2 linked regions of the Homo sapiens genome follow. The protein of the gene in region 2 interacts with the protein of the main gene of each other region in a pairwise test. Each region holds a gene or a part of one and is shown on either strand. Other genes may lie near its edges.

Region 1 (4,354 bases), on a different chromosome or scaffold from region 2:
ATGGATTCTTCAGTTAACCCTCAGCATCCTCCTGCATCTACAGGGCCCTCATTTTCAACATTTCCATTTCTTAGATTATCTATTTTTATTCATGTTTGGGCTATAATCCCTAAAATCCTAAAATTTTCAGCTTGCCCTCCCTCTATGCCTGAGGTCCACTTCCTGGCATTTCCAGCCTGGGCCTTAGCTTTTTCTCACCCCAGTAGAGGACGATGTCCTGGCCCTCTAGACTGCTGTGCTTCACCCGACAGGACAGGTCAGCTGCCTCCCCAGCGGCCACCTCCAGGGTTGCGCGGAGATACCATGTCCCATCAGCACTGGGCAAGATGTCCCCTCGCTGAGTGCCCTGCTGCTCCTGCTCACCCCGCATCCACATCACCCACACGGGCTTTGGGTAGAATCCTGAGACATGGCACACAAGCTGCAGATGGCCAGGGCCAGGACTGGGGCCATGGGACAGCCAGGCCTCGGGCTTCACTGCAAAGGACAGAAAAGATATTCAAATACAGACTTGGAGTTTCATATCTCCACAACAGTTTAGAAGTTTAGATAGACACATTGTTCCCATTTCTCTTTTTTTTTTTTTTGAGACAGGGTCTCACTCTGTCACTATGCTGCAATGCAGTGGCATAATTATAAATTATAGCTCACTGTAACCTCAAACTGTTAGGCTCAAGCGATCCTCCTGCCTCAGCCTCTTAAGTAACTGGGACTACAGGTGTGTACCACCATGACTGGCTAACTTATTTTTATTTTTTAGAGACACTGGTCTCACTCTGTTGCTCAGGCTGGTCTGGGACTCCTGCCCTTAAGAAGTCCTCCAGCCTCAGCTTCCCAAAGTACTGGGATTACAGATGTGAGGCACTGCACCCAGCCTTTCCCACTTCTGGGTGGCTCTTCCTTATTCTAAATTGGAAGGAGGTGGTGGAAGGGTATGATTTTCAAATCAAAACTTCTTGGAGGGAGAGTGCAGGACTGACCTTGCCGCTGGAGATGTGCCTTTCCTGCATCAAGAAGACCCAAGATGAAACGTGGGCAGGTGTCACTGAGAAGATTGTGTGTTATGTCATTTTCATGCTGATTCTGATTGAGCACTTTGCAGAAATGCTTGGCCATATTCCCAGCCACTGGATATGGCAACCATGAATTGTTCTGGAAGCTCACAAAGTCTGATCCTTGATAAGCTAACTGCAAGAAGCTTCCTGAGACCTTTCCAGAGTGCAGCTCACAGCCTCCTGTCACCTGTATCTCAAAAGGATCTGGGGTTATGAAATAGAGGAAAGAGGGAGAAAAAAATATAAAATGAAATGAGTAGAAGCAAAGATTATAGAAGCAGAAGGGGGAAGTGTGCAGGGTTTGACATAATGGAATAAAATTTGGTTTGGTCAGGGATTCAGAGAAAGAGGAATTGGTGGGAGCTGTAGGTGGAGGAAAAGATTAATAACATGAGGAAGAGGGCAAACTGGTCAAAGAAGGTGATGTGAATGCTGTGGGTGAGCAAGGACCTGGTGTAAGAGAACTGGGATTATAACAACTTAGGTTGAATTAAATGCAATGGGTTACAATTGAGTATATATAGAGAGACTGCTGAAGAGAATGAATGAGAAAGTGAGAAAGCTGAAGGTATCTGGTTGTAGGGCAGGCAGAAGGGTGGTCCTGGGATACCTGTAAGAAAAGATAATAATGCACAACCCTGCAATCAATGAGAGAGGAGTTCATAAGTAGCAGAAGTGTTTGGAGAATTAAGGTCTGGATGATAGCCCTTGCCCAAAAGTATGCAATTGCAGTTTTATGGTGGAAAGAATAGAATAAGATACAGAAGAGAGTCAGGCTGTTTCCTAAAGGAATAAGAAACATTGAGACAACCCCTCTCTCCCACCTCACCACTCTCCATGGAGAAAACTGAACTCACATTCAAACTGCAATTCATGGGCGTATCTACGAATTCCCTCAAATGACCGAATGGTGCGTATACGGAATAATGTTTCCAGTTCCTTCCACTCCTCATTGCTGAAGTTTCCCCTGGACCAGGGGCACAGGAAAACGATGGTGCTGGAATTGCTGTCCCAGGTATGAGTCTGCAAATCACTCAGCCAACCTGAGACCAGATTTTGTTTCCAGGAATGGTTGTAAAAGGATGCGATCCAGGTGACATGGAAGGAGAGAGGCTCCTTGAGCCCTGCGACAAAAGAACAGATAGAATGGGGAGAAAGACATTGAGAAAGAGGATGGAGAGAGAAAGGTGCCAGAGTGCGGGAACTCAGAATCTGGAGAAAAGGGGATCCATCATGATCTTAGCAGACATTCACTTGCCACACAGTCCCATGCCTTATCAACCACCTTCATAAGAGCTCAGGGACCTGGAGTCATGGATAGTCAGAATGGAACCAGCCTGGCACTCTCACTTTCCAGGTATATGCTAGGGAAACCACACACACACACACACACACACACACACACACACACACACACACACAGAGAGAGAGAGAGAGACCTTCACCCACCACCCAACTGGGCAGTTGTCAGAGTTCTTACCGTCTGCATTGCCATCACCTGGGAGAACAGCTAACAATGGAAGTAGCAAAAACAGCATATCATTTGCAGATGTTATTTCCTTCTCTCAGAAAAATTGGTCTTTGATTTCTGTTCCAAACAAACCTACCCCACGATATCTCTATTCTGACTTCTTTCTGCAGCCAACAGACAAACCTCCCCTGACTGCAACAAAGAAAATCCACTCCTTCAAAAACCCTGAGATGCCTACTCAGTCTCTCATTTCCCTCTGGTTCTGACTCTCCTCTCTGTTCCAGCTTCTCTCCTTGTCACCAACCTCCAACTTATTCACCTTCCCCTAATTCAACTGCTATGGAACAAGTCTGATGTGGCATTGAAAAGCCACTTAACCACTAAGGACATTTTTTTCTCAATCATACAATAAGAGCATAAAGTGAAATGGCTCCCAGTGTGCTGCCCAATGCTCCCATGTCCCTGCTCTTTTTGATCACTCTGTCCTTTTCAATATTTTCCCATGTATTCTCTTCCCCTGTCTCTTCAGCCCCTTACTACATTCACATTTCTGATTTAACATTGATTTATTTGCTTTTTCAGAGTCTCCTACGACTGCCCTGTGCGACAGTACAAACTAACACCTTTTCTCCATTATTCTTAGAGAAGAGCCAGTAACCATCACAAAAAAAAAAAAAAAAAAAAAAAAAAAAAAAAAAAAAAAAACCACAGGAACACTAAAACATATAAAGAAAATTTCCTCTGTTTGATTTTCATTGATATACATTCACTCACCCAACAGTCTCTCTTAGCACCTGCCTGGAGTCAAGCATCTTGGTACACTTAAGAATATGCAGTGGTTGACAACACAATCACTTTACTGAAGGAGCTTTTTCTCTACTTAGGGAGAAAAACACGCCATGAAATATAAATCTTGGTGTACTGAGTTTTATTATACTGTATACACTCTCTGGATAAAAACAAGGCCTGCTTGAAATAATATTTTCTAAAATGGGGGCTCCTAACTAATGTACGCCAGCCCAGAATTTTGACTTCAATGTTTGACTTGGAGTGTTAGTTCCATACAGTTATCATACTGTATCCCCACCTAACAGAGTATCTCACAAGTGGTAGGTGCTTAGTGAATATTTGTCAAATGAATGAATGAATTCAGTCTATGCATCCATTTTTTAATTATGGAGGTGATATTCAACATGAAACTTTTTAAAGATATCATAAAAGTTACTTGTAACCCTATGTAGTGAGATGAGAATCTCATACAGTTTTATTTAGGATAAAAGTACAAGTTACTGGCATGAGATTTACATAAAAGATCCTGCTATAAATGTCCTATTACTTATAAGAAACTAGTCAGAACTTGTGAGCAGTGAAGTTAATGGAGTATTCCAAAGTCTTTATCCCAGGATCCCTTTTTATTAGTCCTATTTGGATGTTTCAGGGTTGTTTTGTTATAAATGAGTCTTTGCCGGACACATTTACATTCCTCTTTTACGCTGCTTGTAACTGTTGAAGGGCTTCTAAATATATGTTTGTGCTTTGTAGATATCATCCATATAAATGTGTCTGGGCTATTTACTATTTTTTGGTTTTCAAAAAAAAAGTATCTGAAGCTAATTTAGGGGGAAAAAATTTTTTTTCTTGAGACAGGGTTTCACTCTGTTACTCAGGCTGGAGTGCAGTGGAATAATCATAGCTCACTGTAACCTCCAACTCCCGGCCTCAAGCAATCCTCCTGTGTCAGCCTCCCAAAGTGCTGGGATTGTTGGCATGAGCCACCAGGCATGGCCTGCAAATAATTTTTTTATTTGTTTTTTGTTTTGTTTTGTTT
Region 2 (3,806 bases):
TGTCGCCAGCCGGAGCCTGGACAGAGGGAGCCCTCCAAGGAGCTGCAGCCAGGGAGGACCCCACACCCACAGGGTCCCCAGGCCTCCCTGTCCGGCAGCTGCGCCGCTGCCCGTGGCCTCAGCACCAGAACGTCGGCCCCAGCTTCAGAGTACAGGGCCTGCTCCTCCCTGGGGCCCCAGGCTGCAGGCATCTGTGTCTTAAGTGGAGCCCTTGGCACCTTTGTCGGGCCCTTGCCCCCAAAGCTAAGGCACCTGTGCCCAAAACTCGGCTTACCTTCCTCCGCGAGGTCTTTGTTAATCACCAGCTTGCCGTGTCTCAGGTAGTTCAGCACAGGCCCAAAGTAGGTGGGGTCTCTGTCGATTAAATAGGCGCCTGTTTCATCCTAAAGAGAGCAGAGCACGGTGAGTCCTCCGTGAGAAGCCGAAGGTTCCTGCAGGTCCACCAAGGCCCGGCCACCTCAGGAGGCTTCAGAGGCACCAGGTTACCCAGGCCTCTCCCCAGCACACCTGAGCCTGCGGCATCTCAGGAAACCCCTGACGGTGTGGCCACGTCCTGCCGCCTACAGCCTAACCCTGACCAGCCACCACCCCAGGTCTAAGTGAGTTTAAGTCTCTCCGTACGGAGGCAGCCTGGCTCTGCGTACTCCAAGGTGAGCCCACTGTGCCCTGGACCTCTGTCCTCACAACTGCAAGACCTCTAGGAAAACACACACGAAAACCTCACCCAGAGATGCCCTCGCGGGCAGGGCAGGGGCCTAGGGCTCAGCCTCAGAAGGACACCTCTGATGGCCACCAGCCTGGGCCTGCGCTCCTCGTGCCCGGGTCCTCCGCAGCCTACATGCAGGAACCGGGGGTCAGGGTGACAGGGGCTTCCTGCCAGGGGTGGAGAGGGCACCTTTCAGCAGGGGCGGCTGCCCAACAGGCCGGGAGCCAGCAGCGAGGGAGGCCACAGTGACCGGCACTCAACAGCATCCGGGGCTTTCCCCAAGATCATCACTCACCTCACAGAGCCCTCGCCCCGGCTCAGCGCTCACGGAGGCCGAGATGTTTACAAAACAGACCCCTCGGAAGGTGTCCTCACGCACCTGGGTGGAGGGACCCCTGAGAGGCACTGCCCCTGCTGCTACCACGGCCACTTCAATGTGGGCAGATGCCCTCTGAGGCCCGGGGTGCCCCACACATCACACCTTGCAGCCCCTTCCACAAAGCACAAGAGCCCCAGTGGCCCGGCCGTGAACACAGGACGGGGGCTCAGACGCCCCAGGCAGCCCCCATGGGGGAGACGGAAGAGGCAGTTTCTGTCTTGTCGGCTACACATCTGATGGGGGGACTGCGAAGCTGGCACAGCCTGTCTTCTACACAGACTCAGACCTTCCGTGTGGCTCTGCTGGGGCAGCTCCTGCCTCCCCCCACATGCCTGCAAGGGTCCTGCTCCCACCTGCGAGCCACTCCCACAGGGGCTGGTGCCTGCGGGTGCCCTGGAGGCCGGGGAGCTGAGGCCTCCGTTCAGAAACACCGGCAGCCTCCCCGGCGAGGCCCAGGGCCAAGCGCTGGAGAAGCAACCCCACACCCCATTCGGAGCAGGAGCAGCCCCCTCACCAGATGGTGGCTCCTGTGGGGCCATGGGCAGGCGCTGGCCACGGGAATGCCAGGCTCGCAGATATGGGGAGGCCGAAGGTGTCTCCACCACAAAGCACGGGGCCACGCTAGGACCCTATTTTCATCCATGGACAAATTCTGCCATTTGGGTGCTAAGACCTAGTGGTCTCAAGAGATTTTCCCAAAGTCCACCACCGCAAACCTGCAACAACCTGCTCTTTTTAGATCACAGGGACTGAGTTTTGTGGCTGAGATAAAATCAATTAGGGCTCCGGGCATGGGGGCGCTGGACCCGGAGCCTCGGCGGCCCCCCTACTCCTTAGGGTGACCCCAGCTCCACACAGACCTGACCCTATCCTCCTTCCCCACCCTCCCCCGGAACACTCCAGCCAGAGCTGCCCACCCCACAGGCCCTGCCTCCTGGGCTTGGCCCTGCCTTTCCCCAGCCCTCCAGACTCCACAGCTCTCAAGCAAGGGCCGGGGCCACAGGGCCAGCTCCCGGGAAGAGGACGCTGGGCGGTCCTGCGCAACTGCTAAAAAATGGACACCATTTCCCACAAAGGGGCCCAAGTCTGGCAAGGCGGCCAGTGCTGCCACCCGAGTCCAGGGTTCCTCCCTGCCCCACCCCCATACAGAGAGAATGCTGGCCGCGTGACGTCCGCACACCGCTCAGCTCAGGAATTATTCACGGCTCACTGCTACCTCGACAGACCGCTGGCAGGAGGTCAGGAAAGATCAGATAGGGCGGAGGCTCGCCTCTGCCCAGGACAACCCCAGAGAACCCCTTTGTCAGCCATGGAGGCCTCCAGGCCTGGCCTCAGTGGTCAGACTGCAGGCTCACAGCCAGGCCACCCCAAGCCTCAGTTTCTTTACGAGCAAAAGGTGGGGGAGACCAGCTCGTGTAGCTCGGGGCCGCCATGAGTGCCAGGGCACCCAACCTGTGGCAGGACCTGGGCACTGAGCCGTGACCTCTAGGCCAAGACAACCCACCATGTGCTTCTCAGGCCCTGGGCCGGTGCAAGAGGAGAAGGAAGCGTGCTGGGCGCCCCCAGACACACGAGGCAACCCCAGCCCTGCAACTGGAAGGATGAAGGCAGGAGGGAAGGAGGGCAGGGTGGGGACGGCCATCGGCGGAAACTGCACAGCAGGACAGAGGAACACAGACAGGTCCAAGGAGCCGGCAGGGCACTGAGCGTGCTGGCACTGGGCTCGGCCTCAAGACGGGCAGGCAGGGGTAGGCCGCTGCCGTGTCTTGGCCACTCCTACCACTGGGCGGGGCTGGCTTTTCCATTAAACACCCCCTTTAGGAGGCAGCTTTTGTGGCTGATGCTTTGAAGGAACTCCTGACCTCAGTCTGGCCACAGCTGGCCCAGTGCGGTGATGCCAGCAGCAGGCCAACTGGTGCAGCTGCTGCCATCACGTGATACCTGCCGCTGCAGGGAGGGAACAGGGAGGAGGCGAACAGACCCCACTCCCCACACCATAGCCCACTGCCCTCAGCATGGCAGGAGAGCAGCATGGTTGGGTGGAGAGGGGCCCCGATGCAGAGCTGGGGCTGTGCTTCGGGGGCCTGGGGTGGGTAGTGAGAGTGGCACCAGCGGTGAGGACCCAGCCAGTGGCACAGCCATCACACCCACCCCACTGAAGATGTCAGGTTCCCGGGCCTCGGGAGGAGGATCTGCGTGGGGCTGCCTGGGGCTGCAGCCCTGGGGTTCGCCCCACCCAAACTATGGCTGCAGACCCGGGCTTCCCGCTCCACGGAGCAGGCAGGCCCACAACTGCAGCTGCCCAAACCACAGCCTCAGGCATCCCTGCACTCTTGGGGGCCCAGAAAGGCCCCTCTGCCGGGCCCTTGCAGGCTCAGAAGTGCCTGCTCTCACTGCCTGGCTTACTCCTATTGTTGGTGCCTGCTCCGATCTTGGAGCAAAGTTGGGGCCGAGCCCAGGCGCCATGTATGGCAGCAGGAGGCAGATAGATTCCTGGGAAGAAGGGGGTAGGTCCCCGGTAAGGCCCCACCTTCAGGCCAGGGAGGGCATGAAGGCTGGGGCCGGGCTGCCAGTCCCGGGGACCAAAGTGGGGACTTGTGGTGCGTTTTCCGGGCCTGCCCATGAACCAATTAGTATGCACTTCCTTCCCTCTGGGTCCATAAGAGCCCTGGGCTCAGCCAGAGCAGGGCAGAGGACAAAGAGGACAGAGACAATTGGCAA

What was found.
Region 1: the proteins of KCTD5 (region 2) and CD1A interact in a two-hybrid assay, tested with the Homo sapiens proteins (one large-scale study listed by BioGRID and IntAct).

The regions. Positions count from the first base shown.
Region 1 is NC_000001.11:158,252,909-158,257,262, reverse strand, and holds the start of CD1A (T-cell surface glycoprotein CD1a isoform 1 precursor), read right to left. Parts: upstream 2,840-4,354; 5' UTR 2,594-2,839; coding exon 2,536-2,593; intron 2,180-2,535; coding exon 1,913-2,179; intron 1,260-1,912; coding exon 981-1,259; intron 478-980; coding exon 199-477; intron 1-198. UniProt on the Homo sapiens protein: Antigen-presenting protein that binds self and non-self lipid and glycolipid antigens and presents them to T-cell receptors on natural killer T-cells.
Region 2 is NC_000016.10:2,692,512-2,696,317, reverse strand, and holds part of KCTD5 (BTB/POZ domain-containing protein KCTD5), read right to left. Parts: intron 384-3,806; coding exon 275-383; intron 1-274. UniProt on the Homo sapiens protein: Its interaction with CUL3 suggests that it may act as a substrate adapter in some E3 ligase complex. Does not affect the function of Kv channel Kv2.1/KCNB1, Kv1.2/KCNA2, Kv4.2/KCND2 and Kv3.4/KCNC4.